Linked DNA regions of Homo sapiens. The protein of the gene in region 1 interacts with the protein of each later gene in a pairwise test. Each region holds a gene or a part of one and is shown in the gene's direction. Other genes may lie near its edges.

Evidence for each region.
Region 2: the proteins of MAPK6 (region 1) and NELFB interact in a two-hybrid assay, tested with the Homo sapiens proteins (one large-scale study listed by BioGRID and IntAct).
Region 3: the proteins of MAPK6 (region 1) and ZNF600 interact in a two-hybrid assay, tested with the Homo sapiens proteins (one large-scale study listed by BioGRID and IntAct).
Region 4: the proteins of MAPK6 (region 1) and MON1A interact in a two-hybrid assay, tested with the Homo sapiens proteins (one large-scale study listed by BioGRID and IntAct).
Region 5: the proteins of MAPK6 (region 1) and SEPTIN3 interact in a two-hybrid assay, tested with the Homo sapiens proteins (one large-scale study listed by BioGRID and IntAct).
Region 6: the proteins of MAPK6 (region 1) and NRXN2 interact in a two-hybrid assay, tested with the Homo sapiens proteins (one large-scale study listed by BioGRID and IntAct).
Region 7: the proteins of MAPK6 (region 1) and CNTRL interact in a two-hybrid assay, tested with the Homo sapiens proteins (one large-scale study listed by BioGRID and IntAct).

What each region holds. Positions count from the first base shown.
Region 1 is NC_000015.10:52,046,487-52,050,527, forward strand, and holds part of MAPK6 (mitogen-activated protein kinase 6), read left to right. Parts: coding exon 1-529; intron 530-3,506; coding exon 3,507-3,651; coding exon of another isoform or gene 3,652-3,656; intron 3,657-4,041. UniProt on the Homo sapiens protein: Atypical MAPK protein. Phosphorylates microtubule-associated protein 2 (MAP2) and MAPKAPK5.
Region 2 is NC_000009.12:137,253,994-137,258,561, forward strand, and holds the start of NELFB (negative elongation factor B), read left to right. Parts: upstream 1-1,333; 5' UTR 1,334-1,372; coding exon 1,373-1,618; intron 1,619-1,913; coding exon 1,914-2,077; intron 2,078-2,335; coding exon 2,336-2,435; intron 2,436-2,830; coding exon 2,831-3,061; intron 3,062-4,568. UniProt on the Homo sapiens protein: Essential component of the NELF complex, a complex that negatively regulates the elongation of transcription by RNA polymerase II.
Region 3 is NC_000019.10:52,763,308-52,766,902, reverse strand, and holds the end of ZNF600 (zinc finger protein 600), read left to right. Parts: coding exon 1-1,316; 3' UTR 1,317-2,719; downstream 2,720-3,595. UniProt on the Homo sapiens protein: May be involved in transcriptional regulation.
Region 4 is NC_000003.12:49,922,959-49,926,999, reverse strand, and holds part of MON1A (vacuolar fusion protein MON1 homolog A), read left to right. Parts: intron 1-4,041. UniProt on the Homo sapiens protein: Plays an important role in membrane trafficking through the secretory apparatus. Not involved in endocytic trafficking to lysosomes.
Region 5 is NC_000022.11:41,985,987-41,990,027, forward strand, and holds part of SEPTIN3 (neuronal-specific septin-3), read left to right. Parts: coding exon 1-126; intron 127-1,219; coding exon 1,220-1,301; intron 1,302-1,635; coding exon 1,636-1,773; intron 1,774-3,580; coding exon 3,581-3,698; intron 3,699-4,041. UniProt on the Homo sapiens protein: Filament-forming cytoskeletal GTPase. May play a role in cytokinesis.
Region 6 is NC_000011.10:64,720,003-64,724,472, reverse strand, and holds the start of NRXN2 (neurexin-2-beta isoform alpha-1 precursor), read left to right. Parts: upstream 1-1,275; 5' UTR 1,276-1,502; intron 1,503-4,470. UniProt on the Homo sapiens protein: Neuronal cell surface protein that may be involved in cell recognition and cell adhesion.
Region 7 is NC_000009.12:121,144,026-121,148,066, forward strand, and holds part of CNTRL (centriolin), read left to right. Parts: coding exon 1-57; intron 58-817; coding exon 818-934; intron 935-1,218; coding exon 1,219-1,360; exon of another isoform or gene 1,361-1,365; intron 1,366-2,082; coding exon 2,083-2,231; intron 2,232-4,041. UniProt on the Homo sapiens protein: Involved in cell cycle progression and cytokinesis. During the late steps of cytokinesis, anchors exocyst and SNARE complexes at the midbody, thereby allowing secretory vesicle-mediated abscission.

The sequences.
Region 1 (4,041 bases):
GAACATTCATGGTTTTGATCTGGGTTCTAGGTATATGGACTTAAAACCATTGGGTTGTGGAGGCAATGGCTTGGTTTTTTCTGCTGTAGACAATGACTGTGACAAAAGAGTAGCCATCAAGAAAATTGTCCTTACTGATCCCCAGAGTGTCAAACATGCTCTACGTGAAATCAAAATTATTAGAAGACTTGACCATGATAACATTGTGAAAGTGTTTGAGATTCTTGGTCCCAGTGGAAGCCAATTAACAGACGATGTGGGCTCTCTTACGGAACTGAACAGTGTTTACATTGTTCAGGAGTACATGGAGACAGACTTGGCTAATGTGCTGGAGCAGGGCCCTTTACTGGAAGAGCATGCCAGGCTTTTCATGTATCAGCTGCTACGGGGGCTCAAGTATATTCACTCTGCAAATGTACTGCACAGAGATCTCAAACCAGCTAATCTTTTCATTAATACGGAAGACTTGGTGCTGAAGATAGGTGACTTTGGTCTTGCACGGATCATGGATCCTCATTATTCCCATAAGGTATGTATAGAAAGCCAGCTGAGACAGATCTTTAAACTGATACACCTAATCAGGAATAGGTACTTATATTTTCTTTGTATATTGTGGCAGAATTTTTAATCTTATTAAACTTTACATAGTGCCTTTTTTCTGAAACAAGTCTCTCTGTTTGAAATGAAGGTGGAGTGGGATAATTAAATACAAATTTCTAAAAATACATGGTTATTATAATGAAATTTTAAAGTGTATGGTTATTTATTATAAATGAAATTCTCCCTTAGTTATTTAAAAGTGGAATATACTCTTCTTTCTTTGGGACAGAATTGTGGTAAGAGGGGATGCTATTTCAACTTTAGGTCTTTTGTTTTTGAGACAGAGTCTCACTCTGTCACAAAGGGTAGAGTGCTGTGGCGCCATCTCGGCTCACTGCAACCTTCATCCCCTGGATTCAAGCGATTCTTGTACCTCAGCCTCCCAAGTAGCTGGGATTACAGGTGCGTGCCATCATGCCCAGCTAATTTTTTTGTATTTTTAGTAGACAGGGTTTCACCGTGTTGGCCAGGCTGGTCTTGAACTCCTAGCCTCCAGTGATCTGCCTGCGTCAGCCTCCCAAAATGCTAGGATTACAGGTGTGAGCCCCCATGCCCAGCCTTTTTTTTTTTTTTTTTAAGTTTTTAGTGACAAGATCTTGCTGTGTTGCTCAGGCTGGTGTCAAACTTCTGGGCTCAAGTGATCCTCTGGCCTCAGCCTCCTGAATAGCTGAGGCTAAAGGTGCATGCCAGCACACCCAAGCTTATGTCTTCTTTTGTCTCTTTGAGCCTGTACTATTCAGTTCTGCTTTGTTTAAACTAAATTTAGCTTGAAATCTAAATTCACATAAACAATTGGTAATAAGTATAGCCAAAAAGATCTCACAGCAACTTCGTCTTAGATAGCAAATTGCCTTCATACAAGAATTTAATATTTTTCAAGCTGAACCTTGGTCTTTTAGTTTGGAAATGAAATCTTATGTGGGACCCTGATGTTTAAATTAGAGAGGTGGAGCTGCTTTGGTTGTAAAGAACCCCTGGGAGCCCTGCTTTGTTAGCTTTCCACAGTACATGCCTAAGACAAATCTTCATACATGTTGTTTCACGTTAAGATTATTTTTATTTTTATTTATTTATTTTTTTGAGACTGAGTTGTGCTCTTGTCACCAAGGCTGGAGTGCAATAGTGTGATCTCAGCTCATTGCAACCTCCGCCTCCTGGGTTCAAGCAGTTCTCCTGCCTCAGCCTCCCAAGTAGCTGGGATTACAGGCGCCCGCCACCACGCCCAGCCCACATTAAGGTATTTTTACTTGGGCCAGGTACAGTGGCTCACACCTGTAATCTCAGCACTTTGGGAGGCTGAGGCAGGCGGATCACCTGAGGTCAGGAGTTTGAGACCAGCCTGACAACATGGTGAAACCCTGTCTCTCCTAAAAATACAAAATTAGCTGTGCCTGGTGGTGCATGTCTGTAATTCCAGCTACTCGGGAGGCTGAAGCAGGAGAATCCAGGAGGTGGAGGTTGCAAAGAGCTGAGATTGCGCCAATGCACTCCAGCCTGGGCAACAGGAGCAAAACTCCATTTCCAAACAAAAAAGATATTTTGTAGAAAATGAGTTCTAGGCTGGAAGCGCGGTGGCCCCTGCCTGTAATCTCAGCACTTTAGGAGGCCGGGGCAGGAGGATCACTTGAGGCCAGGAGTTTGAGACCAACCTGCGCAGTGGCTCCTGCCTGTAATCTCAGCACTTTAGGAGGCCGGGGCAGGAGGATCACTTGAGGCCAGGAGTTTGAGACCAACCTGGGCAACACAGACAACTTTTTTTTCCTAGAGAAAAAGAAAAAGAGATGAGTATTACACTGACGACGTCCACAGTGAAATATTGTGGGTAGAGCACTGTATCCACAGTGAAGTATTGTGGATAGAGCACTGAACTAATAAGACTTATACTATATAAAATTGACTCCATTTCTACATCCAACTAGCTATATGACTTGAAGCAGATCTCACTCTCTCAGTCATCACACCTATAAAATGGAGTTAATATCTACCATCACAATCTCTCAGGGTAGTTTTGAGGATGAAATAAGGCAATATATGTGTAAGGTTTTGTAAGGTGCTTTGTAATTGTAAAGTAGTTGAATAGGTGATGAATAGGATTTATAGTAGAGGTCATTAAGGAGGTAGACATTGGTTTATAAGTAGCACCTCTGGTGCTCTTCCCTACTGTTCTGACTTGAAGCATACTTGCTCTTTGATTATCTCAAGACTGAGTGTAAACCAGCTCGTCTTCTGAAAAATGCTTTGAATGTGTGGCCTAGAGTTATATAATTTTTTTTTTTTTTTTTTTTTTTTTAAAGACAGGGTCTTGCTCTTTGCTCACTGCAACCTCTGTCTCCTGCGCTTAAGTGATCCTCCCACCTCAGCCTCCCAAGTAACTGGGACTACAGGCGTGTGCCACCATGCCAGGCTAATTCTTGTATTTTTAGTAGAGGCAGAGTTTTACCATGTTGCCCAGGCTGGTCTCAAATTCCTGACCTCAAGTGATCCACCTACCTCGGCCTCCCAAAGTGCTGGGGTTAAAGATTAGGATTTTTTTTTTTTTTTTTTTGAGATGGAGTTTAGCTCTTGTTGCCCAGGGCGGAGTGCAGTGGCACAATCTCGGCTCACCGCAACCTCTACCTCCCGGGTTCGAGCGATTCTCCTGGCTCAGCCTCCCAAGTAGCTGGGTTTACAGGCATGCACCACCACACCTGGCTAATTTTGTATTTTTAGTAGAGATGGGGTTTCTCCGGTTGGTCAGACTGGTCTCGAACTCCCGACCTTGGGTGATCCGCCCACCTTGGTTTCCCAAAATGCTGGGATTACAGGCATGAGCCACCACGCCTGGCAAATTAAGGATTCTTTAATCAAGTTGTAAGTACTGTTCTTCAGCTAAAGTAAAAAAAGTATGTTTTTTGTTTCTTTTATAGGGTCATCTTTCTGAAGGATTGGTTACTAAATGGTACAGATCTCCACGTCTTTTACTTTCTCCTAATAATTATACTAAAGCCATTGACATGTGGGCTGCAGGCTGCATCTTTGCTGAAATGCTGACTGGTAAAACCCTTTTTGCAGGTTAGTATTTTGTGGGGGGAAAAATTTTCCCAAAGAGAAGTAATTTTGCATTTTATCTCTGAAGCAAGATTCATATAAGATTTAAAATAATTTGTTATGATCTGTAATACTAAAATGAACAGATAAATTGGCGTTTTTAATAAAAAAATTGAGAAAACTTATTCACATATTCACTAAATTGGTCACTTCATAAATTATCAGAACTCCTGTTTAAATATAATTTCATATTTTGTGGACCCATAATACTTGTTGGTAATTTGTGTTGATACTTAAGTTGCATAATTCTGTCAGTATCATCACTTCCTGGTGAAAATTTTAAGCCATTGTTGAAAATCCAACAAATTTTTCTTGGTCCCCTCCCCCTATAAACAACCAAACAAGTAATTTTTT
Region 2 (4,568 bases), on another chromosome or scaffold:
CCTGCAACTTCGCCTGGCTGGGGCCTCCCTTGTCATCACTGGCCTGCCCTCCTACCCAGGGTCGGGCCCCAAGGCTGCCACCTTGCAGGAGCCTTACCTGCGGTGCCGTCACCCGCACCTCCCCAGGTCCTCCCCAGACCCAGGACCCAGACCAGGCCCAGAGCTCAACCCCTTCAAAAAGGCTCTGGGCAGCTGCTTCTGTGGCCTCAGCACCACCCCCTTTCTCAGAGAGGAATCCCAGGCTCAGGATTGTGTGTGTGCTGTGACCCTTGTCCTCCTCTGCCACCGAACCAGCTGGGGGTTGGATCAAGGCACTGGAACCCTCGCCCTAGGGCTGACCAACTTGGCCAGCGGCAAGAGAGCTGTGGTAGCCATGGCCTTGGGAGCTCGGCCCGGCTTGTGGGAACAGGAGCTCTGCTCACGGCTGCACCACCAGGCACCCCTGGTGAGACCCAAAGCTAGGAGTGGGAGCGGCAGGAAAGATGGAGCGATCTCCTCCAGCTGGGCTGAGGAGGGAGGGCTTCCTGGAGGAGGTGGTGGAGGAAGAAGCCTTCAAGGAAGAGCAAGAGTTTGCTGGGCAGCGGGAAAGAAATTTCTAGAGAAAATTTCAGCAGCGGAGACCGAAAAGAGAGAGGGTGTGTGTAGGGGGCTTGGCGCGGCACAGCCTGCGGGAGGGCGGCGGGCTGGAGAGGCGGGGAGGCCCGGGGAGCCCACCCGCCTGGGATAAGAAGGGACACTGTGGAACCTGGACTCTCCTTCACGGCTCCGCGGAGCTCGGTGGGCGCCACAGCCTCCCGGTGCCTGGGAGGGCGGCCGTCGCTCGCGCTCCCGCTGCGGGCCCGGTCTCCGCCAGGCCCCGGCCCCCTGAAGGCGCTCAGATCTCAGTTTTGGCGACAGCGCCGGGGTGGGCTTCGTGCCCGTTTCACGCGGAGGAACCCACGCTCAGGAGGGAGTCTGCGCCTGTGTCCGGCCCCTGCGGGGCAGAGGGGCGGGGAGCTCAACCCCCGGCAAAACGTCCCCGCTGCGCGTGGCTGCCGCGAGATCTGCAAGAGCGTTTTCCACGCTTATGTACACGAAATTCACTCGGCTGCGACGACGTCCGTTCCCGGAGCAGACGGACCCTGAGTCCGCCCCCCACGCCCTCACCCGCCCTCTTCTGCCAGAAAGCCCGGGCGCGGGCGGGACCGGGTGGGCGCATGCGCGCTGGGCTGGCTGGGCGGGGTCTCTCGCGCCGGGTGAGGGCGCTGCTCCCAGGAACCTGCGCGCGGCCCCGGCGGCGTTTCCCGGGGGCCGGTTGGCGGGCGGACCTGGGCGGTGCGGGGCGGAAGTGGGCGGCTGCGGGACGCGCGCGGAGTCGCGCGGCGGGCGGGACCTGGCCGAGCTGGAGGGCGCCGGGGAGCGGGGCTCGGGCGGTCCCCGAGGCCCGGCGGAGCGGGCTTCTGGGGTGTCTGCGGCGGCGCCGGGGGAACGGGCTGGGGATGGGGCGCCTAGCCGGGCGGTGGCCGGGGCCTCGGCCATGTTCGCGGGGCTGCAGGACCTGGGCGTGGCCAACGGCGAGGACCTGAAGGAGACCCTGACCAACTGCACGGAGCCGCTCAAGGCCATCGAGCAGTTCCAGGTGGGGCGGCCCCCGGGGCGGGGGGAGCCCAGTTGGAGGGCCGGGCCGCCTGCTCGGGAGTCGGGCCTGGCGGAGGCGCCGGAAGTTTTCCGGCTTTCTGCTGGTGGCTGAGTCCTGTTCTGGGGGTGGAGTCCGGAGCCAGCACCCCTTTGCTGGACGGCTGGGTGGCTTTCGGTGGCTGCGGTTACCGCCAGCACGGCTGGGAACACCTGGGTGCGTGCCTCCCTGTGCTCTCAGGACCTCGGGGTGCCCGGGCGCACTGGGCTGCGTTTGAGGTTTCTCTTGGCTTCCTCAGACAGAGAATGGTGTGCTGCTGCCATCTCTTCAGTCAGCCCTCCCCTTCTTGGACCTGCACGGGACGCCGCGGCTGGAGTTCCACCAGTCGGTATTCGATGAGCTGCGGGACAAGCTGCTGGAGCGAGTGTCAGCCATCGCTTCGGAGGGGAAGGCTGAGGAAAGGTGGGTCAGCGGGAGGGGTGGGCAGGTGAGATGTGCAGCCGGCCTCTCAGCCTTGGATCGACTCAGGGGCATTTATTGTCCTTTTGGCTCCACATCCTTGCTCCCAGAGGTGGCCTGGGCCTGTGTCTGAGTGACCCCTTGACCCATGTGTCCTGGGCGTGGAGGCTTGTCCTGGTAGCTGTTATCTGTGTAGGGACAGGCAGGTAGCTGCTGCGATTTGGCGCATCGCTGCACCATCAATCCTGTGAGTTGTTCCAGGTACAAGAAGCTGGAAGACCTTCTGGAGAAGAGCTTTTCTCTGGTGAAGATGCCGTCCCTGCAGCCCGTGGTGATGTGCGTCATGAAGCACCTGCCCAAGGTAGGGCCCTAACCCTAACCCTGATGGCGTGGACCGTCCGCCCACTCTCATGCCCTTGGTTAGTGGAAGTTCCGGTGGCCGCCTAGCTCCGGGAGCTTCCTGTGCTGCCTGCCCAAGTGCTGTCCATGGTGAGCTCTGTGCTGACTTCTCCCACATGAGCCGCGTGGAGACCGAACCTTAGCACTGGAGTTAGGGTGTGGGGCCCCTCCTGGGAAAGAGCTGTTGGTATTTAGCATGTCTGTCTGACATGCTGGGGCCGGGGAACCAGTCATAGGTGCCCTGTGGGGTGGAGCTTAGCTCGAGGTGGTCTCTGCGGGGCTGAGGCCTCTTGGCTTGTCTTGAAGGAGACCCAGGGACACAGGTGCCACTCACAGGCAGCCTGTGGTGTCATGTAGGTTCCGGAGAAAAAACTGAAGCTGGTTATGGCTGACAAGGAGCTGTATCGAGCCTGCGCCGTGGAGGTGAAGCGGCAGATCTGGCAAGACAACCAGGCCCTCTTCGGGGACGAGGTTTCCCCACTCCTGAAGCAGTACATCCTGGAGAAGGAGAGCGCTCTCTTCAGTACAGAGCTCTCTGTCCTGCACAACTTTTTCAGTCCTTCCCCCAAGACCAGGCGCCAGGGCGAGGTGAGGGGACAGGCCGTGTGCGGGGTGGGGCACCTCTTGGGGATGCCACGGCTAGCGCCTTCAGCTGCCTGGGGATCAGCACTCTGCTGCCCTGTGAATGATCGGGTGGTTCTGCTTCTTGGCTGGGTGGTGGGGGAGGGCTGGCTTGTACACATGCTGGAAAGAAAGTTGGTTGTTTTTCTGTTTGCATTTTACTTTTCGTTAAAGTGATATATGGACAACATTTAAAATCTGCGGAAAGCCCGCTCATGTGAAGTTAATCCCCCCTCCCCTACTTTTTTTCTTTTTCTTTGAGACGGAGTCTCGCTCTGTTGCCCAGGCTGGAGTGCAGTGGTGTGATCTCGGCTCACTGCAAGCTCCCGGGTTCACTCCATTCTCCTGCCTCAGTCTCCCGAGTAGCTGGGACTACAGGCGCCCGCCACCATGCCTGGCTAATTTTTTTTCTTTTTCTTTTTTTTTTTTTTTGAGACGGAGTTTCGCTATTGTTGCCCAGGCTGGAGTGCAATGGCGTGATCTCGGCTCACTGCGACCTCCGCCTCCCAGGTTCAAGCAATTCTCCTGCCTCAGCCTCCCGAGTAGCTGGGATTACAGGCATGCATCACCACGCCCGGCTAATTTTGTATTTTTAGTAGAGATGGGATTTCTCCATGTTGGTCAGGCTGGTCTTGAACTCCTGACCTCAGGTGATCCGCCCCCCTCGGCCTCCCAAAGTGCTGGGATTACAGGGGTGAGCCACCGTGCCTGGCTTTTTTTCTTTTTTTTTCTTTTTTAAGAGACAGGGTCTCACTCTGTTGCACAGGCTGGAGTGCAGTGGCGTGATCACGACTCGCTGCAGCTTTGACTTCCTGAGCTAAAGTGATCTTCCTGAGTAGCTGGGACCACAGGCACGTGCCACCACACTGGGGCTACTTAAAAATATATATATATTTTTGTAGAGGTGGGGTCTGGCTATGTTGCTCAGGCTGGTCTTGAACTCCTGGGCTGAAGCGATCCTCCCACATCAGCCTTCTAAAGTGCTGGGATTACAGACATGAGGCACCATGCCTAGCCGAGATTTGTTGGGGTTTTTTTTTTTTTTTTTTTTTTTGAGACAGGGTCTCACTCTGTCACCCAGGTTGGAGTACAGTGGTGTGATCGTGGCTCACTGCAGCCTCGACCTCCTGGACTCAAGCAATCCTCCTACCTCAGTCTCCTAAGCAGCTGGGACCACCGGTGTGTGACACCATGCCTGGCTAATTTGTATACTTTTTGCAGAGTTGGTGTTTCGCTGTGTTGCCCAGGCTGGTCTCGAACTCCTGGGCTCAAGTAATCTGTCTGCACACCTCAGCCTCCTGAAGTGCTGGGATTATAGGTGTGAGCGACCACAACTGGTTGTGAGATTTTTTAATTAGCCAATTTTTTTTTTTTTTTTTGAGACAGAGTCTTGCTCTGTCACCCAGACTGGAGTGCAGGGCCTCAATCTCGGCTCACTGTAACCTCTGCCTCCTGAGTTCAAGCAATTCTCCTG
Region 3 (3,595 bases), on another chromosome or scaffold:
AGCAATCAAACCTTGCACGTCATCGTAGAATTCATACTGGAGAGAAACCTTACAAATGTGAAGAATGTGACAAAGTTTTCAGTCGGAAATCAACCCTTGAGTCACATAAGAGAATTCATACTGGAGAGAAACCATACAAATGTAAGGTTTGTGACACAGCTTTCACATGGAATTCTCAGCTGGCAAGACATAAAAGAATTCACACTGGAGAGAAAACTTACAAGTGTAATGAGTGTGGCAAGACCTTCAGTCACAAGTCATCCCTTGTATGCCATCATAGACTTCATGGTGGAGAGAAATCTTACAAATGTAAGGTCTGTGACAAGGCTTTTGCGTGGAATTCACACCTGGTAAGACATACTAGAATTCATAGTGGAGGAAAACCTTACAAGTGTAATGAATGTGGGAAGACCTTTGGTCAAAATTCAGATCTTCTAATTCATAAGTCAATTCATACTGGAGAGCAACCTTACAAATATGAAGAATGTGAAAAGGTTTTCAGTTGTGGATCAACCCTTGAGACACATAAGATAATTCACACCGGAGAGAAACCATACAAATGTAAGGTTTGTGACAAGGCTTTTGCGTGTCATTCCTATCTGGCAAAACATACTAGAATTCATAGTGGAGAGAAACCTTACAAGTGTAATGAGTGCAGCAAGACCTTCCGTCTGAGGTCATACCTTGCAAGCCATCGCAGAGTTCATAGTGGTGAGAAACCTTACAAGTGTAATGAGTGCAGCAAGACCTTCAGTCAGAGGTCATACCTTCATTGCCATCGTAGACTTCATAGTGGTGAGAAACCTTACAAGTGTAATGAGTGTGGCAAGACCTTCAGTCACAAGCCATCCCTTGTTCACCATCGTAGACTTCATACTGGAGAGAAATCTTACAAATGTACGGTTTGTGACAAGGCTTTCGTGCGTAATTCATACCTGGCAAGACATACCAGAATTCACACTGCAGAGAAACCTTACAAGTGTAATGAATGTGGGAAGGCTTTTAATCAACAATCACAACTTTCACTTCATCATAGAATTCATGCTGGGGAGAAACTTTACAAATGTGAAACATGTGACAAAGTTTTCAGTCGCAAATCACACCTTAAAAGACATAGGAGAATTCATCCTGGAAAGAAACCATACAAATGTAAGGTTTGTGACAAGACTTTTGGGAGTGATTCACACCTGAAACAACATACTGGACTTCACACTGGAGAGAAACCTTACAAGTGTAATGAGTGTGGCAAAGCCTTTAGCAAGCAGTCAACACTTATTCACCATCAGGCAGTTCATGGTGTAGGGAAACTTGACTAATGTAATGATTGTCACAAAGTCTTCAGTAACGCTACAACCATTGCAAATCATTGGAGAATCTATAATGAATAAAGATCTAACAAGTGTAATAAATGTGGCAAATTTTTCAGACATCATTCATACATTGCAGTTCATTGACACACTCATACTGGAGAGAAACCTTACAAATGTCATGACTGTGGCAAGGTCTTCAGTCAAGCTTCATCCTATGCAAAACATAGGAGAATTCATACAGGAGAGAAACCTCACATGTGTGATGATTGTGGCAAAGCCTTTACTTCATGTTCACACCTCATTAGACATCAGAGAATCCCTACTGGACAGAAATCTTACAAATGTCAGAAGTGTGGCAAGGTCTTGAGTCCGAGGTCACTCCTTGCAGAACATCAGAAAATTCATTTTTGAGATAACTGTTCCCAATGCAGTGAGTATAGCAAACCATCAAGCATTAATTGACACTAGAGTCAGTCCAGCATTGACTTGAGTTTGTGTTGACTTAACATTGAGTTCAACCCTTAATTGACATTCAAGTGTTTATGTTAAGAGGATTGGGCCAGGTGTGGTTTCTCACACCTGTAATTCCAGCACGGTTGGAGGCCAAGGCACATAGGTCACTTGAGGTCAGAAGTTTGAAACCAGCATGGCCAACAGATGTCAGCCACTTTTCCCAGCCTGTTTTTTGATTCTTATTTTCTATTTTTCTTTTTTGAGATAGTACTTTTTAAAGAGATAGTACTTTTTTGATATAGTACTTTATAAAAGGGAGATCAGGCCAGGCACGGAGGCTCATGTAAGTAATCCCAGCACTTTGGGAGGCCGAGACGGGCCCATGACAAGGTCAGGAGATCGAGACCGTCCTGGCTAACACGGTGAAACCCCATCTCTACTAAAAATATAAAATATTAGCCAGGCGTGGTGGCAGGTGCCTGTAGTCCTAGCTGCTTGGGAGGCTGAGGCAGGAGAATGGTGTGAATCCTGGAGACGGAGCTTGCAGGGAGCCAACATCGTGCCACTGCACTCCGGCCTGGGCGACAGTGAGAATCTGTCTCAAAAAAAAAAAAAAAAAAAGGATATCAAAGCTGGATGGTGGCTCATCCCTGCAATCACAACACTTTGGTAGACTGATGTGAGTGGATCACCTAAGGTCAGAAGTTCAAGAGCACCCTGGCTAACATGGTGAAACCCCATCTCTACTAAAAATACAAAAGTTAGCCGGGGGGTGGTGGTGTGCACCTTTAGTTCCAGCTACTTGAGAGGCTGAGGCACAAGAGTCGCTTAAACCTGGGAGGTAGAGGTTGCCGTGAGGCAAAATCGTGCCACTGCCCTCAGCCTGGGCAGTAGAGTCAGTCTCCATCTCAAAGAAACCAGCAAACAAAAAATATTAAAAAAAAACATTAAAAATGCTTTTGTTCTCATTGTTCAATAGACTTCCTTTTTTTTCCTTTCTGATTCCTCTTCATTTCTCTCTTTTTTTTTTTTTTGCAGTTTGAGTTTGAGATAAATCTTAGTTTTAAAAATTGTATTTCTTTCATAGTATATAATCACATCTGAAAGATGCCTTTGCAGCATCGTATAGTCAGCTCACATCATTCATTTCTGTACTTGTATATTCTCCTGTTCTTTTCCAGTTGACCCCAGAATTCATTAGATTAAAAAAAATAGTTGCTGTTTGAAATTAGTTGCATCCAGTTCAGATCGAAGTCTGCATGCTTTCTGGTCTTTGTTATTTATTGGAAGCGTTTCATACCCAATACTTAAGTTTGATTGTTTCAGTGTGTACTTGGTATAGATGTCAGTGACCTTTTAACTAAACATCAAAATGTAGTTTAACCAGTTAGTCTGTTTTTCAGTTTTCTTTCCTTATGTCATTTGTTAAAATCTTGAGCTGGGAGCTATTTATTGCGTGTTTCCCTCAAGGCCCTCTGGTCCATTCTGGAAAAATGTTGAAACATGGGCTGGATTGGCATGGAACTCTCCTCCAAAAGCACCCATGTATTCTTTTTCTTTTTTTTTCCTGAAATGGAGTCTTGCTCTGTCGCCTTGGATGGAGGGCAGTGGTGTGATCTCAGCTTACTGCAACCTCTGCCTCCCGGGATCAAGTGATTCTCCTGCCTCAGTCTCCTGAGTAGCTAGAATTACAGGCACCCACCAACATGCCTGGCTAATTTTTGTATTTTTAGTAGAGACAGGGTTTCACCATGTTTGTCAGGCTGGTCTCTAACTCTTGACCTTGTGATCCGCCCGACTCGGCCTCCCAATGTGCTGTGATTACAGACATG
Region 4 (4,041 bases), on another chromosome or scaffold:
TGGGACCAGCCTGGCCAACATGATGAAACCCCATCTCTACTAAAAATACAAAAATTGGATGGGCATGGTGGTACACACCTGTAATCCCAGCTACTCGGGAGGCTGAGGCACAAGAATTGCTTGAACCCAGGAGGCAGAGGTTGCAGTGAGCCAAGATCATGCCACTGCACTCCAGCCTGGGCGACAGAATGAGACTCCATCTCAAAAAAAAAAAAAATCTCCCTCCCAAAGATGTCTGTTGGCTGGATGTGGTGGCTCACACCTGTAATCCCAGCACTTTGGGAGCCCTAGGAGGGAGGATCTTCAGTTCAGGAGTTTGAGAACAGCCTGGACAACATACTGAGACCCCATCTCTACAAAAATAAAAATTAAAAAATTAGCCAGGCGTGGTGGCACGTGCCTGTAGTCTCAGGTACTCAGGAGGCTGAGGTGGAAGGATCATTTGAGCCTGAGAGGCCAGGGCTACAGTTAGCTGTGATTGCATCACTGCACTCCAGCCTGGGTGACAGAGTGAGATTCTGTCTCAAAAAAAATAGAACTCCTCCCGCATGTGGCTTAAAGCCATACTGAAATTTGTGGTAGGTCACAGGGTAACCTTCAATCCAGAGAAATAAAGCAGGGCAAGAGGGGTAAGGAGCAGGGATATTGATAAGGTAATGCTTGAGCAGCAACCTGAAGGGAGTGAGGGACTGAGTCACATAGATAACTAGCCCAGGCAATGGAGTAGGTGAAGTGGGGTGCAGGGGGAAAGTTCAGCAACGGCAAAGTTCTAAAGTTAAAGAGTGCCCAGGAGGCTTAAGGAAAGCCAGGAGGCCACTATGGCTGGGCTGAATCACAGTTAGTGGGGAAAAAGGATAAGAGATGAGGTCAAAGAAGTAATGGGGAAGGAGTTATGTTGAGTGGGGCCTTGTGCACCACTGTGAGGAAATTGGCTTTCTCACTGAGTAAGGTGGGACCATTACAGAGTTGTGAGCAGAGGAACTGCATGACCTGAGTTCTGTATCAAGAGAATCACTTTGCTGTAAGAAGCACAGATTATGCAGGGACAAGGGCAAAAGAGGGGAGACTAGATAGGAGATTACTGCAACAATCTCCTAGAGAGACACTGGTGGCTTTGACCACAGTGGTAGCTGTGGAGGTGACAAGTGGTCAGATTCTGGATATAGGCATTTCCCACTTAACATCAGTAATCTGTTTCATGAAAATTGGACATTCTGTGTGAAATCTTCAACTTAATATATTTTCCATTGATTGATTGATTGAGACAGGGTCTTGCTGTGTTGCCCAGGCTGGAGTACAGTGGCACAATCACGGCTCACTGCAGCCTTGACCTCCTGTACTCAAGCGATCCTCCCACCTCAGCCTCTTAAGTAGGTGGGACTACAGGCATGAGCTGCCCCACCCAGCTGATTTTTTATTTTGTAGAGACAGGGTCTCACTATGTCAGCCAGGCTGGCACTCAGTAATTTTCTATCAGTTCTATTTGGAATATAATTTGAAGCTTTAAATGCACATTACTTTGTTAAAAATATAGATAAGATTTTAATGATGTAAATATACATATTTTCTGTATAAACATACACTGGGCCAGGTGTGGTGGCTCACACCTGTAATCCCAGTACTTTGAGAGGCTGAGGCAGGCAGATCACTTGAGTCAAGGAGTTTGAGAGCAGCTTGGGCAACATAAGGAGACCCTGTCTCTACAAAAAATTAAAAAATTAGCCAGGCATGGTGGCACATGCCTGTGGTCCCAGCTACTTGGGAGGCTGAGGTGGGAGGATCACTTGGGCCTGGGAGGTTGAGGCTACAGTGAACCATGATCACACTATTGCACTTCGGCCTGGGTGGCAGAGTGAGACCCTGTCTCAATAGATAAATAAATAAACATAAGCTGAATCAACATAAGTTTGGTATATTAGTTAACTATTGCTGTGTAACAAATTATGCCAAAACTTAGCAGCTTAAAACAACAATATTTATTATCTCATACAGTTCTTGTGGGTCAAGAATTTGGGAGTGGCTTAGCTGGATGGCTCAAGCTCAGGGTCTCTTATTACGTTGAAGTCATCTGAAGGTTTGACTGGGCCTAGATGATCTGCTTCCGAGATGACTCACTCATGACTAGCAAGTTGGTACTGGCTGTTCACAGGAGGTCTCAGTCCCTTGCCATGAAGTTCTCTCCATAGAGCTGCTTACATGTCCTTACAACATGGCTGATGGCTTTCCCTAGAGGGAATGATCCAAGAGAACAAGGCAGAAGCCACAATGTCTTTTATGACCTAGCCTCAGAAGTCACACATTGTTTTTTCATTTTTTTTTGAGACAGGGTCTGCTCTGGCACCCAAGCTGGAGTGCAGCAGTGCGATCTCAGCTCACTGCAACCTCTGCCTCCCCCCGGGTTCAAGTGATTCTCATACCTTAGCCTCCCAAGCAGTTGGGATTACAGGCGCCCGTCATGACACCTAGGTAATTTTTGTATTTTTAGTAGAGATGGGGTTTCACCATGTTGTCCAGGCTGGTCTCAAACTCCTGACCTCAAGTGATCAGCCCATCCTGGCCTCCCAAAGTGCTGGGATTACAGGCATAAGCCACTGTCCCCAGCCACACATTGTTATTTACACAGTGTCCTATTGGTTGCATAGGTCAGCCCTGCTCAGTGTGGAAAGGGAGTATGCAAAGTCGCATAGCAGGAGTTGAGGATTACTAGAGACCATCTTGAAGGCTGACAACCAAGCTGGATATTAAAAACAAAAAGGCATTCTATGGTGAAAATGTTAACTAGAGACATTTTGCTGGATGTGCCTGTATTCTGAAATAGAGCTAACAGGATTTGCTGATGGTTTGGTATATGAGGTGTGGGGAAAAAAAGAGAGGCGTAAGGGATGACTCCAAGGTTTTTTGTTTTTTTTTTTTCCTATGAGACAGAGTCTCGCTCTGCCACCCAGCCTGGAGTACAACGACACGATTTTGGCTCACTGCAACCTCTGCCTCTCCAGTTCAAGCAATTCTCCTGTCTCAGCTTCCTGAGTAGCTGGAACTACAGGCACGTGCCACCATGCCCGGCTAATTTTTTGTATTTTTAGTAGAGACAGGGTTTCACCGTGTTAGCCAGCAAGGTCTCGATCTCCTGACCTCATGATCTGCCTGCGTCGGCCTCCCAAAGTGCTGGGATTACAGGTGTGAGAAACCGTGCCCGGCCGACTCCAAGGTTTTTCACCAAACAACTGAAAGAATGAGATTGTCTTTCTTGGCCAGGTGAGGTGGCTCACACCTGTAATCCCAGCACTTTGGGAGGCCAAGGTGGGCAGATCACAAGGTCAGGGGTTTGAGACTAGCCTGGCCAACATGGTGAAACCCTGTCTCTACTAAAAATACAAAAATTAGCCAATGTGGTGGCACACGCCTGTAGTCCCAGCTACTCGGGAGGCTGAGGCATGAGAATCGCTTGAACCTGGGAGGTGGAGCTGAGATTGCGCTGTTGCACTCCAGCCTAGGCAACAGAGCAAGACTGTCTCAAAAAAAAAAAAAAAAGAGCTTGTCTTTCTTTCGTTCTTCCCTTCCTTTCTTTCTTTCTTTCCTTCCTTTCTTCCTTTCCTTCCTTTCCCTCCTTCCCCTCCTTCCCCTTCCTTCCTTCCTCCCTTCCCTCCCTCCCTCCCTCCCTTCCTTCCCTCCCAGAGTCTCGCTGTGTCACCCAGGGTGGAGTGCGGTGGCGCGATCTCAACCTCCACCTCCCGGGTTCAAGGGATTCTCCTGCCTCAGCCTCCCGGGGTAGCTGGAATTACAGGCATGCGCCACCACACCCGGCTAATTTTTTGTATTTTTCATAGAGATGGGGTTTCACCGTGTTAGCCAGCATGGTCTCGATCGCCTGACCTCATGATCTGCCTGCCTCGGCCTCCCAAAGTGCTGGGATTACAAAGTGTGAGAAACCGTGCCCGGCTGACTCCACGGTTTTTCACCAAACAACTGAAAGGATGAGATTGTCTTTCTTGGCCAGGTGTGGTGGCTCACACCTGTAATCCCAGCACTTTGGGAGGCCAA
Region 5 (4,041 bases), on another chromosome or scaffold:
AGAGTGGACTGGGCAAATCAACGCTGGTCAACACGCTCTTCAAATCCCAAGTGAGCCGCAAGGCCTCCAGCTGGAACCGGGAGGAGAAGATCCCCAAGACAGTGGAGATCAAAGCTATCGGGCATGGTGAGGACCAGGCAGGGACCCCTATGGGCTTTGTTCAGTGAGTGCCTCTGCTGGAAAGGGGAAAGAATGGGGCTTATTGAAGAATAAGATCAATAAAAGGCAACCTTAAGACAAAACAGACGTGAGCACTTCACTCTGAAGCAAACTCCTTAGACTGCAGGTTCAGGGAAGAGAGAGCAGGGAGCTCGAATGGAAGGAGGTGAGATTTGAGGTGGATGATAAAGTACAGGATTTAGACAGGTAGAAAGAGGTAAGGAGTGGGCAGGTACGGTGGCTCATGCCTGTAATCCCAGCACTTCGGGAGGCCAAAGTGGGAGGATCGCTTGAGTCATGGAGTTCGAGACCATCTTGGTCAACACAGTGAAACCCTGTCTCTTTTTTTGTTTGTTTGTTGTTTGTTTTTTTGAGACGGAGTCTTGCTTTGTCGCCCAGGCTGGAGTGCAGTGGTGCGATCTCGGCTCACTGCAAGCTCCACCTCCCGGGTTCACGCCATTCTCCTGCCTCAGCCTCCTGAGTAGCTGGGACTACAGGCACCCGCCACCACGCCCGGCTAATTTTTTTTGTATTTTTAGTAGAGATGGGGTTTCACTGTGTTAGCCAGGATGGTCTTGATCTCCTGAGCTCGTGATCCGCCTGCCTTGGCCTCCCAAACTGCTGGGATAACAGGCGTGAGCAACCACGCCCGGCCCGAAACCCTGTCTCTTAAAAAAAAAATTAGCTGGGTATGATGGTGCATATCTGTAGTCCTAGCTATTGGGGAGGCTGAGGCGACAGCATCACTTGAGCTGGGGAGTTCGAGGCTACAGTGAGCTGTGATTGCACCACTGCACTCTAGCCTGGGTGACAGAGTGAGACCCTGTCTCTTAAAAAAAATAAAAGAAGAAGAAAAAGAAATGAGTAGAGAGGGTATTCCAGATTCCAGGTACAGGGAACAGCATAAGCCATGATATCGAGATGGAAAAGACCCTAAATTTGACTTTTCCAATAACTGATCCTGAAGACAAGGCCTGGGTCTCCCTGGCTAGTAGGCTGCCAGGTACCTGGGGTCAGCTGTAGGACTGACCTCTCTGGTACATTTTCTTTTCACCCCCAGTGATAGAGGAAGGCGGTGTCAAAATGAAGCTGACCGTCATCGACACCCCAGGCTTTGGAGACCAAATCAACAATGAAAACTGGTATCTGTCTGCCTCTGAGATCTTTGCCCTAAAGACTCTGCTGGGAAGATACTTACTATGGTGCAGATTCATTCACGTTGAGAACCATCTGCACCCTCCATGCTCTGTAGTTCCCGACAGCCCAGGCCAGGGCCCCTGGGGAGCTCCACCCCTGCTAACTAACCATCCAGGAAAGCCATCGGTGCGGGGGCTGAGGGGGAATCTGGCAGCAGGTATCCTAGGCCCACCAACCAGGGAATGACATGAATGTAAGGAGATTGCTACCAGATCATGCCTAAGCTGAGCCCTAGGTCTTGTTCTTCTGATGCATCTATCTACTTTCCCTCCCCATCAGCTGGGAGCCCATTGAGAAGTACATCAATGAGCAGTACGAGAAGTTCCTGAAGGAGGAGGTCAACATCGCCAGGAAGAAACGCATCCCTGACACTCGTGTCCACTGCTGCCTTTACTTCATCTCTCCCACAGGACACTCGTATGTACCAACCCTACCCCTATTGTCAGGCCTGGTCTGGTTTGTATCATCTGTGCCCATCTGGATTGGATGATCCATACGTTGACTCAGCTAGGCCTCCCTAGCTGAGTCCTAGCCCTTCCAGCCAGATGGGTTGGTACATAGTCATGGCCCATGACCTTGGGATTCCCTAGACTTTCCACGAGGAAGTTTGACTTTCTTGCTAGGAGGTTAAAGCTGTCCAACATCAGCCACCAATATCTGCCCACTGGTGTCCCAGCAGCATGGCACAACTGTATCAGCAAAGAGGACTTGGTGAATGTGAGCAGAGGGCACTTCATTTATTCACCAAATACCTGCTTTGGAAAATAATTGGAGTCGGAGGGAGCAGCAAGAAGGGTGAAATAGGGCAGTGCAGGGCTCCTGGATTGGGGCTGGTGTTTGGAGGGTAGGGACCCAGTTGTAGGCATTTAGAAGGTACCAGCCTGGAGTGAGGCATTGTGTGTTCAGAGATGAAGGCCAACCATTGTCATGAAGTACTATCTGATAGGCAGAATAAGACACACACAAGCATGTTGGGAACTCTGATTGTGAGTGACAGGTGGGCCCCATGAAGGAAGTGCTGGGAACAGGCAGAGGATGGAGATCCTAGGGGGCAGGCCAGAAACCTTCCTGCAGAGACCGGGGGAGGGGGGTCCCATAACATTACTAAGCCCAGCTGCTGGGCCAGAGTTAAGCTCTTCAGAGGATGGCACAAGCAAGGTAAGCCCCAAATTTTCTAGGAACCAGGCAGTGATGGTAGGGGGAGAAGAGAGATGAAACAAGACCCCTGGGCTAGACCCAGGAACTCAACAGAAGGCTGGTTTTATCCCTCCCTAGGCTTCGACCCCCTGGTCAGAATGAACCATCAGACAGACTGACTTAGTGAGTCCCTGAGATTGCAAAATAGAGCCAAGTTGGGGTCTCAGAGCCTGAGGTAGGATGGGGGCATAGACTGTCAGATTGTGGGAAGGGCAAGGCCTCCAGTTTGGCCCTGCAGGACTAACTCTGGGGGCTAGGAGGAGACCTGTCAAGAAGTAGTCTGATAGGCAGAACAAGATGTACACACTAGGCACGGTGGCTCTCGCCTATAATCCCAGCACTTTGGGAAGCCGAGGCAGGAAGATTGCTTGAGTCCAGGAGTTCAAGACCAGCGTGGGCAACATGGCAAGACATTGTCTCTACACAAAATTTAAAAATTAGCCAGACATGGTAGTGCGCAACTGTGGTCCCAGCTCCTCTGGAGGCTGAGGTGGGAGGATTGCTTGAGCCCTGGAGGTCAAGGCTGCAGTGAGCCAATGACCATATCACTGCACTCCAGCCTGGGTGACAAAGTGAGACCCTGTCTCAAAAAAAAAAAAAAAAAAAAAGACACACACAGTGTTGTTTTTTTTTGGTTGTTGTTGTTTGTTTTTTGTTTTTGAGACAGACAAAAAAGGAAAAAAGACACACACGCACAAGGACATATGAGTAGAGACAGTAGTCCACAGATGCTCCCAGGAGAAAGAAATCCCTGAGTCAGAAAAGATGTCCTGAAGTGGTGGTTTGAGGGGGGCTTAAAGAGAGGCAGAATCTGCAAGGGGACTGAAAAAGAAAAAGGCAGGTGTTGAGGCTGCTCTACAGACGGCAAGGCAGTGGGGCTGTGTCGGAGACGAGAGGTAGCAGCCTCTTGGCCTCAGCCAGATGCCCAGCCCAGTCCTCTTCTCCTGTGGGTGTCCTGGAGTGGTGGTGGTGGCTGAGTTGGGGAGGGCAAGGTGGCTCTGATGATTCTGCCTTTTCTGTGCCCCAGCTTGCGACCTCTGGATCTTGAGTTCATGAAACACCTCAGCAAGGTTGTGAACATCATCCCTGTCATTGCTAAGGCTGACACCATGACCCTGGAGGAGAAGTCTGAATTCAAGCAAAGGGTGAGAAGGCCCCCTGTCTTCTTTTCCTGTTCCCATCCCCTCCTTTCTCTCCGCTGGGTTCAGGCCATCTCCTAGCCCTCATCATTCTGCCTTCACCCCCACCCTCAACCCTCCCCCAATTCTCCACCCCAGCCCCCTTCTTAACCATTCAAGAGGCTGAGGTTGGTGGTATCTGGGGACTATGATGAAGAAAAGATGGCACAGCTCTGGGCTGCCTTCTTCCCACCCTCCAAACCTACCTGTGAAGACCACTGAATACATGTATCACTGTGTACATAAGAAATCACTCCTCCAACGTTAGCCTAATTGAAGGGCTAGACTAATTAGTGAGTCAACTGGCCAC
Region 6 (4,470 bases), on another chromosome or scaffold:
TGTGTCTCTGGGAATGCCCAGTGTTCACAGATATGTGTGCATGGCTGTGAGTGCCCCAATGTCCATGCATTGGTGGTTGAATGTAAGTGTTCTTGCATGTTGCCTCTGGCTAAGGAAGTGCCAACTACCACCAGCTGTGCAGATCACAGACCCTGCAACAGAAACCAGGGTCCTGGAGTGAGCTGGCAGAATGGTCTGGCACACATACACACACACACTCTGTCTCTCACTGTCTCATTCAGCAGCCCAGTGACCAACCTCGGGGTATACACACTAAGTGCCAGTGTGTGTACACTTTTATTGGCGGAGTGAGTGAAGGGTGTCCCCCAGTCCCCCACACTCATACACATGCACAGTGATGCATGTACCCTTACAGGAGAGACCTGCGCCCCCCAGCACCACTCTAACTGAAACTCATGGATGGGAGGAGGAGAACAGAGAAGGGGGCTGCTGCCAGGTGCCCTCAGTCACCAGGCATGTGCAGGCGCAACCCTGCCCCCACACCTACTCGTACCTCGGTCCAGGGTTCCAGGCAGAACTGAGAGTTTGGCCTCAAACTCTGGGATTCCCATGAGGCAGGACTGGGAAACCCCCAAGTTCCTAGGTCTACCCCGCCCCCATCTCTGCCTTTCCTTCCCCCACCGCCTCCGTCTTTATCCCAGCAAAGCCCCTTCCTCTTCAGTTCTGGGGGCTCCAAGCCAGGGGCCCTCCGGACGGTGGGAGGTGGGGGCCAGGCTACCGACTGGAAAAAGCCCCCAGCAGCCATGGACCCACCGAGTCCCCCTTCTCTAGGCTCCTCGAAGCCCGGGCCCGCCCCTGGGGGTAGCCAGCAGAGGGCGCTGCGGCCCAGGCCCCGCATCAGCCCTGCTCTCGCGGCGTCCCAAGTCGGGGTCCACAGCCTCTCCTTCGGCTTGTCCCAGCCCCGCGCTGCGCGAAGACCTGCTGGCCGTGGGGGGAGGGTGCGGGACCCAAGGCCCCGAACTAAGGGGCGAGGGGCGAGGGGCGAGAGTGCTTGGGTTCCCGGAAAAGACACTGAGGCCGGGTTTGGGGCCCGCCTGGTTGGGGGCCCGGGCGCCCGAGAACCTCGAGAGGCTGGGAGGAGCGCGGGTGCTGGGGCCGGGACGCCTGGGTCCCGCGCGAGGGAGGGAGTGGGCCTGTGGAGCCGCTGGACTGGCGGCTTCTGAGCCCTTGCATTGGCTGCGCTGCTCGCCCGTCAGCGCAGCGTGGTCCAATGCGCGCGTCTCGGGGGCGGGCACTGGTGCTGATGCTGCCGTCAGTCGGTGTTGCAGGGATGCGGCGGCGGGAGCAGCCGCCCTGACTCGCGGAGCATCCTCCTCGGAGAGGCACCGCGGCGGGGCGGGCGGGCGGGCGGGGACGCGGCGGGGAGGGAGAGAGGCGCGAGGCGGCAGACACCGCTAGCCCTGGCTCTGCCACCCGTCGGAGACGGGGCGGCCCTGTAGCTCTGCTACCCACCCTCCAGCTTCTGGCGCCCCGAGAACCAGGTAAAATGGGGGGGGGGGGGCGCTGCGGCGGAGACGGGCGGGGGGCGGGAGCCGATCGGGGGAGGGGAGCGGATCGGAGGGGGCGAGGGAGGCAGGACGGATGAATTGGGGGGCGGGGGCGCCGCGCTGAGAGGGCTGGCCCGGTGACAGCGAGGAGGCAAAGCCGCTGGGGGCTTGGGGGTCGGAGGCTCCTGTGGAAGGGGCACTGGCCCTGAGAGCTGAGGAGAATGGGGAGGGGTGGGAGGAAGGGTCTTTGGGGGAAGGGATGGAGAGAGGAGGGGCATCCAGAGGACTTAGAGGGGGTTCTTAAAGGGGGGTCCCCAGTCTGTGCTAGCCCCAGAGGCTTGAAGCAGCGCCGGGCCAGAGGAGCTGTTGTGTTCTGGAGGGTCTAACCAGCGAGAAACTGGGCTTCGTGGGAGGAGAGGAGAGGGGGCTGGAGAAGAGAGAGAAGTGGAGAGGGAAGGAAAGGGGCCAGGCCAAGGGCTTCGTCCTGAGGGGACCCACTGAGGACCAGGCTTTCCTGGGGGATGGGAGCCAAGGGGAGAAGAGGTTATTGGGAGAGAGCAGAGGGGAATGTGCCAAGGTGCTCCAGGCAGAGATGGGTCTGTGCTGGTGGAGAGCTGGGAAAGATGGGGTCTGAGGGAGAGGAGCGGAAGCTTGCGGGGGAAGGCTGGGGGTGATGAGACAGGGAGACTGGGAAATCAGTAGGAGGGGGCTTTGCTGGGGTGGGAATGCGCTGGGGGCGGTGACAGGGTTCTGGTCAGAGAGTGCTGCAGGGGGAGAGGAAGCTGCAGGGCCCTTGGCTTGCTCCCCCACCCCTAAAGAGGAAGGGACCATTTCTCATGTCCCAGCCTCCTCCCCCAGCTGAAGCAGCAATCTTCCCTGGGGTCTTTGGGTTGGGGTATGAGCCCTTGAACCCTTGATGGGCTTTTGGGGCACAATTGGCTTTGGGGTGCTGTTGTCTCCTTTACTCTCACCCCCCTCCTGAATCTTGGGAGAGGGCATTCGATGCCTCATTGAGCTAGCAAGGGCTGGGAGGGGCTTTTTCTTGGTGTCTGGAGGTGAAGGAGGAGGCTGTCCACCTGGAATAATGAAATAGATTTTTAGGGGGTGGGTCTTGGGTCCCCAGTCCCTTGGCTGCCCTGGGGGCTTCCAGATAGCCCTGTTTTTTCATGTGTTGGCGGGTGGGCGTCTCTCCTCTTCCATTCATTCTTATCCTTCCCTGTTGTCTACCTTCCCAGTGTCTGGGTGTTCCTTTTGGAGGAGGGTGGACATTAGGGTCTTACTTTCTCTGTCTTCTGCCAGAGAAGGAGAAAGAAAGAAGGGAGAGGGAAGGAGAAGGGGAGGGAGGTCTGCAGTCTGCTAACTGTGAGGCCTTCTGTTTTGTGGGTGCTTCAGCCCCTCAGTCCCTACCTCCTCTTGCTTCCAGGGATGGCTCTAGGGATGCTGGCATCTGAGGTGTGGCTGGATCTTTTGGGAGACAGGGGAGAAGGGTCTGGCTGGGGGCTCTTCATTCATGCTAGAGGAAGTGTTCTCAGACCCATCCTATCCTCAGATCCACAGGGGTGGGCGGGATGGACCAACCAGCCACGGCTGCCGGGCAGTTCTTTCCAGCCCAGGCCTGGGCTGAATCCATATGACATTGGAGTTCTGAGAGGAGGGGCTGGGTGCGCGAGTGGCTGGTGGGGACCCCTCTTTCCTTCCAGGCTCAGTCACTACCCAGGTCCAGCTGCTCCCTCCCGCTTACCCTTGCCAGTGACACAGACACTCTGACAATGATACACGCGCTCGGTGGCACCCACCCAGACACACACCTACACAGGCACACACACCTGCGTACACAATACACCTCCTGGCAGCATACAGCCCACACTCCCCACCCAGAGAGGCTGCCACCTCATGCCTGCCTCCTTGAGACCTCCCCCAGGTGCCTTGCTGCCATGTACACAACACACACACGGCCACTACGTGCCCCCAGAGCCCCCAGCGCAGCACTGCCAGCCCTCACCCTTGGATGCACACAGCCCCCATCCAACCACTCACCTCCCCAGGCTCACAGCCATCGCAGGCACACCTGTGCTTCTTCCTCATACACCTTCAGTCCTTGCAACACACCCTCTCCTTCCAGACACCCCATCCCTCCCAGGTCTACACAGCATGTGGGCACACCCTCCCAGACACACCAGTCCCTGCCCCCCAGCAAGCTCATCCTGAAGTACCATGTGCATGTCTGTCTGGGTGCTGAACACCTTGCCCCAGGCCTTTGTGTGTGTGCACGTGTGTGTGCACACCAGCACATGTTTGCTAACACACTTAATGCTGTGGCTCACCCCCTAAACCTCTCTTCTACTTTCTCTCTCTCTCACTCACTTATCTTTGTACCTTCGGCGCAGGGCCTCCTACCCCTCCTGGCCACAACCACGACCCTTCCCAGTGGAGTCCAGCCCCCACCTACACCTGGTTTCCCTGGGAGCCTTCCCATTTCTAAGTGGCCCCACCCCCCGCATTAATCCTCAGGCACAAGGGCCCCTACACCTGCCTGTGCACTGGAGACACTGTCCTTTCATTCGCAGCTCCCAAGCCCAGCCCCCACGGGGATGCCCCGATTGTGTGTCCTCACACGCCACCCACCTTGCTGCTCCATCTGTTGGTGCAGCTCCCTCGCCCCTGCCCCTTCCACACTGATGGGCCTGTGGGCTCTCGGAGACTCATTCAACAAATAGTCTGGTGCACACTTTCAAGGATGTGTGTGGCACCTTGTTATTTACGAAGCTGCTTCCCCACTGCCACCACCACTGTTTGGCATGGTGGGGTGAGGGTGAAGGTGGGACTCCGCTGTGCTCCTCAGTGAGCCTCAGTTTCCTCACGTGTGAAATGGGATCCTCATCCCTACCTAGTGGGATGTTATGAGGACTCACTGAGAGGACAATGATGGCAATGATAGTAGTAACAAGCATGTTTATTGTGT
Region 7 (4,041 bases), on another chromosome or scaffold:
GACCAGCTGAAGTCCCTTCATGGAACTGTTATGAAAATTAACCAGGAGCGAGCAGAGGTGAGTTCACATGTACAGAACAGGTTTCCATCAATGATGCTGCTGTCAAAAAACATGGCAACTTGTATTATTGATCTTGCTATAGACATTGGTTATTTTATAAACCACTGTAAAGTTGTCTGTTTTTCTTAAGACCTAAAGATTATATTCCCCCCATCACAACCCCCAATAATTTATTTTGTGCTGCCATGGATACTGCGTTCTACTGAGCCCTGAAAGGAATCATCAAATAAACATGCTATCCCTACCTTTAAGTGTAAGGATGCTTAGGGAGGTAGCTGTCAATATCTACCTGGACAAGGGTTCCTGAAGGATTGTTATATAATCCCTCTGAATCTCAAATTTTTCATCTCGTGCAGTCATGTGAAAATGTTACTTCATAGTATGACTCCTTACTGAGCTAATGTCTGTTACTGTGCTTTATAGGATGCAAATGCTAATGAGATTAAGATAGCAGATCATAGGAGACAAAAATCTAATGATGAGAGCCCAGAGAGACATAATCATGGAAGACGGTAGTAAAAGTAAAAAAGTAAAAAAATTAGCCTTTGTTCTTTCTGATGCCGCACCTTGGGGTTGGGAGCTGGGCAGGCTGCCCAACAATGGGAACAACACAGGAGAAGGTGGGGCTTGGATGTCCCTTTTCATGGACAGCCTGGTAGGCAATGTGATGAAAGCAGAAGAATCAATCCAAGAGGAAGAAATGAAGAAGACAACCTGTGATAGCAGTGGTGCCTTTCTCATACTTCTGTCCCAGTAGGAGTTGCAGGAAGCAGAGAGGTTCAGCAGAAAGGCAGCACAAGCAGCCAGAGATCTCACCCGAGCAGAAGCTGAGATCGAACTCCTGCAGAATCTCCTCAGGCAGAAGGGGGAGCAGGTCAGTGTTGGTACCCAGAGACCTCCTCTTTCTCAGATTCTTATCAGTTCCTAAAAGACAAAATTACTGTAGGTGATGTCTCAAAGAATTCTGAAGTGCAATCAATAGTTAATAAGTACTTTATCCTCTACTGTGTGCCAGGCTTGGTGCAGTTTCCAAGTAATGCAGTTTCCTCACTGGGAAAGTGTAAATAAATATAGAATCATAATCAAGTTGAAAGGATAAATGTGTTTGGGAAAGAATGAATTCATTGGCAACTTTGTATGTGTAATTTTTTTAAATAGTTTCGACTTGAGATGGAGAAAACAGGTGTAGGTACTGGAGCAAACTCACAGGTCCTAGAAATTGAGAAACTGAATGAGACAATGGAACGACAAAGGACAGAGATTGCAAGGCTGCAGAATGTACTAGACCTCACTGGAAGTGGTAAAGTATTGGGCTTTGATTTTTGGCAGTGGTTTTGTAGTCATAAAATTAAATCATCTCATTTGTTTTTTACCTTTAACTGTTACAAATCAAGTCCATGCTTGATTCAGAGAGCTGTGGTAATTAGCTTAATAAGTAAAATAAAATAAATCAGATAATTTTAAGAGTATTTTCTGTAAGTGTGTTACTGGGGGACTTGGTTGCCAAGATAAGAGTTTCGTATTTGTGGGCGAGCACAGTGGCTCATGCCTGTGATCATAGCACTTTGGGAGGCTGAGGTGGGTGGATCGCTTGAGGTCAGGAGTTCGAGACCAGCCTGGCCAACATGGTGACACCCTGTCTCTACTAAAAAATACAAAAATTAGCTGGGCATGGAGGTGGGCACCTGTAAACCCAGCTACTCGGGAAGGTGAGGCAGGAGAATCACTTGAACCTGGGAGGCAGAGGTTGGCAGTGAGCCGAGATTGGGCCGCTGCACTCCAGACTGGATGACGGAGTGAGACTCTGTCTCAAAAAAAGAAAAAAAGAGTTTTGTATTTGTAATTTCAAAATAAATAATGTTTACAAATCAGTTTGCCTTTTTTTGACTTACCAAAGGGCAGACTGAAAGTCAGCTTTGAGGAACTGATAAAATTAATTGGCTCTCTTAGAATCTCTTTTATATTTTGAGAAAGGAAGTAAGTGATTTCATATCAATTTCATAGAATGACTTTTCTTTACAGACAACAAAGGAGGCTTTGAAAATGTTTTAGAAGAAATTGCTGAACTTCGACGTGAAGTTTCTTATCAGAATGATTACATAAGCAGCATGGCAGATCCTTTCAAAAGACGAGGCTATTGGTACTTTATGCCACCACCACCATCATCAAAAGTAGGAATTCTGTGGTGTTGGGAATGTATACTGAATTTTCTTGAAGAAAGTGTGACATTGTCCCCTTCCCCAAATTTATGAACAGGTACCAAAAACAACATTTCTATGCTAAGCCGTGCATTGAGGTTCTGTAGCGTTTTTAATATTTGAGATGAAAATAGGGCCTTCTTGGGGAAGGTGACAGTTGACTGTTCATACTCGGGCGGTATGTGTTAGGGTCCTTGAATGTGGATGCTCTAAGGAGAAAAGGTGATTTGAGCCCAGAGAGCCTGCTGAAATGGACATAGAATTGTGCAGAGCCTCCGACAGAAAAAAAGGCACCTGGATTTCATGTCCTTTTAACGAACATTCATTCAGTGTTTACTGAAGCCTAGGCCAAGTGCTAGGTAGTGGTGGGGCATCACAATGAATGGTAAAGCCCCTGCTCTCAAAGAGTTCATTGGCCATGCCAGCATAATTGCAAAATGGTGACATACCTATGACAACAGACCTGACCTGTATTCTCTAGTTGCAGAGAGGTATTAAGGATTCATCTGATGGGAAGTTCAGGAAGGAATGCTTCACAAGCAGGGATGTGAAGTCAGCACTTAGCAAGCAGTGAGCGTTGGGCTTTTAGGAGGGAGGAAACAGCTCGTATGGAAGAGGAGAGTTATTGGCTTAGCAAAGACAAATAGCTTTGTGGGGCTAGAGGGTTTATAGGAACAGTGTCAGATGAAGCTGAAAAGTAGATTGGGGTCATGCTTTTGTTTTTCTTTTTGTTTTTTGAGACGGAGTCTTGCTGTGTCCCCCAGGCTGGAGTGCAGTGGTGTGATCTTGGCTCCTTGCAACTGCTGCCTCCGGGGTTCAAGCGATTCTCCGGTTTCTGCCTCCTGAGTAGCTGGGATTATAGGCATGCGCCACCACGCCTGGCTAATTTTTAGATTTTTAGTAGAGATGGGGTTTTGCCATGTTGGCCAGGCTGGTCTCAAACTCCTGACCTCAGGTGATCTGCCCACCTTGGCCTCCCAAAGTTCTGGGATTACAGGCGTGAGCCATCACCGTGCCCAGCCTGGAGTCATGCTTTTTTAAAAGGGCCTTAGAATCTCTTACACTTAATTATGTAGGCCATAATTATGTAGGCCATGAGAAATGGGTTGTGTACTAAAATGATCAGAGCTGTAGTTTAGGAATAATATTCTGGCTAGTATAGAGTCTATACTTATGGTAGGGTGAGCTTTCGGTGGGGCTCTTTAAACTGATTCAGGTAAAGAGTAGAAGCCAGAGCTAGATCAGTGGAGCTGGGAAAGAGGAGATGAGATTAAAGGATGTTAAAGAGAAATGGTTAGGGCCTGGGGCCTGAATGTGGGAAGTGAGGAGAAGACTGGGGCCTGAATGTTGAAAGTGAGGAGAAGACTATAGGCTGTATTCATCCAAAGCAGAGGGGCCTGGTGCTATCCTGCTAGAATCAGCCGATGAGCAATAGTCAGGGAGAAGCAGCTCAGACACACTAGGTTCTCAGGGCTGTGTAGACTTAACCAGACCCCTGAAGAGCAGAATCTTAGATTCTCCCAGCAATCCTAAAGGAAGCCAACTCCTTGGTACAACCAGAGCTGGAGGTGGAAGCAGTATAAATTAGAGCAAAACATATAAGCCTGAGCTGGGTGAGGGTTTAGAGGATGTACCTACAGACTGAGAAGGAGAAGGAGGGTAGCAGAGTAGAGCTTTAAAGCCATGCCAAGCTCCCAGGACCACAGAAGACTGGTGACCCCAGATTTCTTCGAAGTTCACTGGTTTCCTTTGCCTCAGTCACTGGGCCATCAAGGATGAGGTT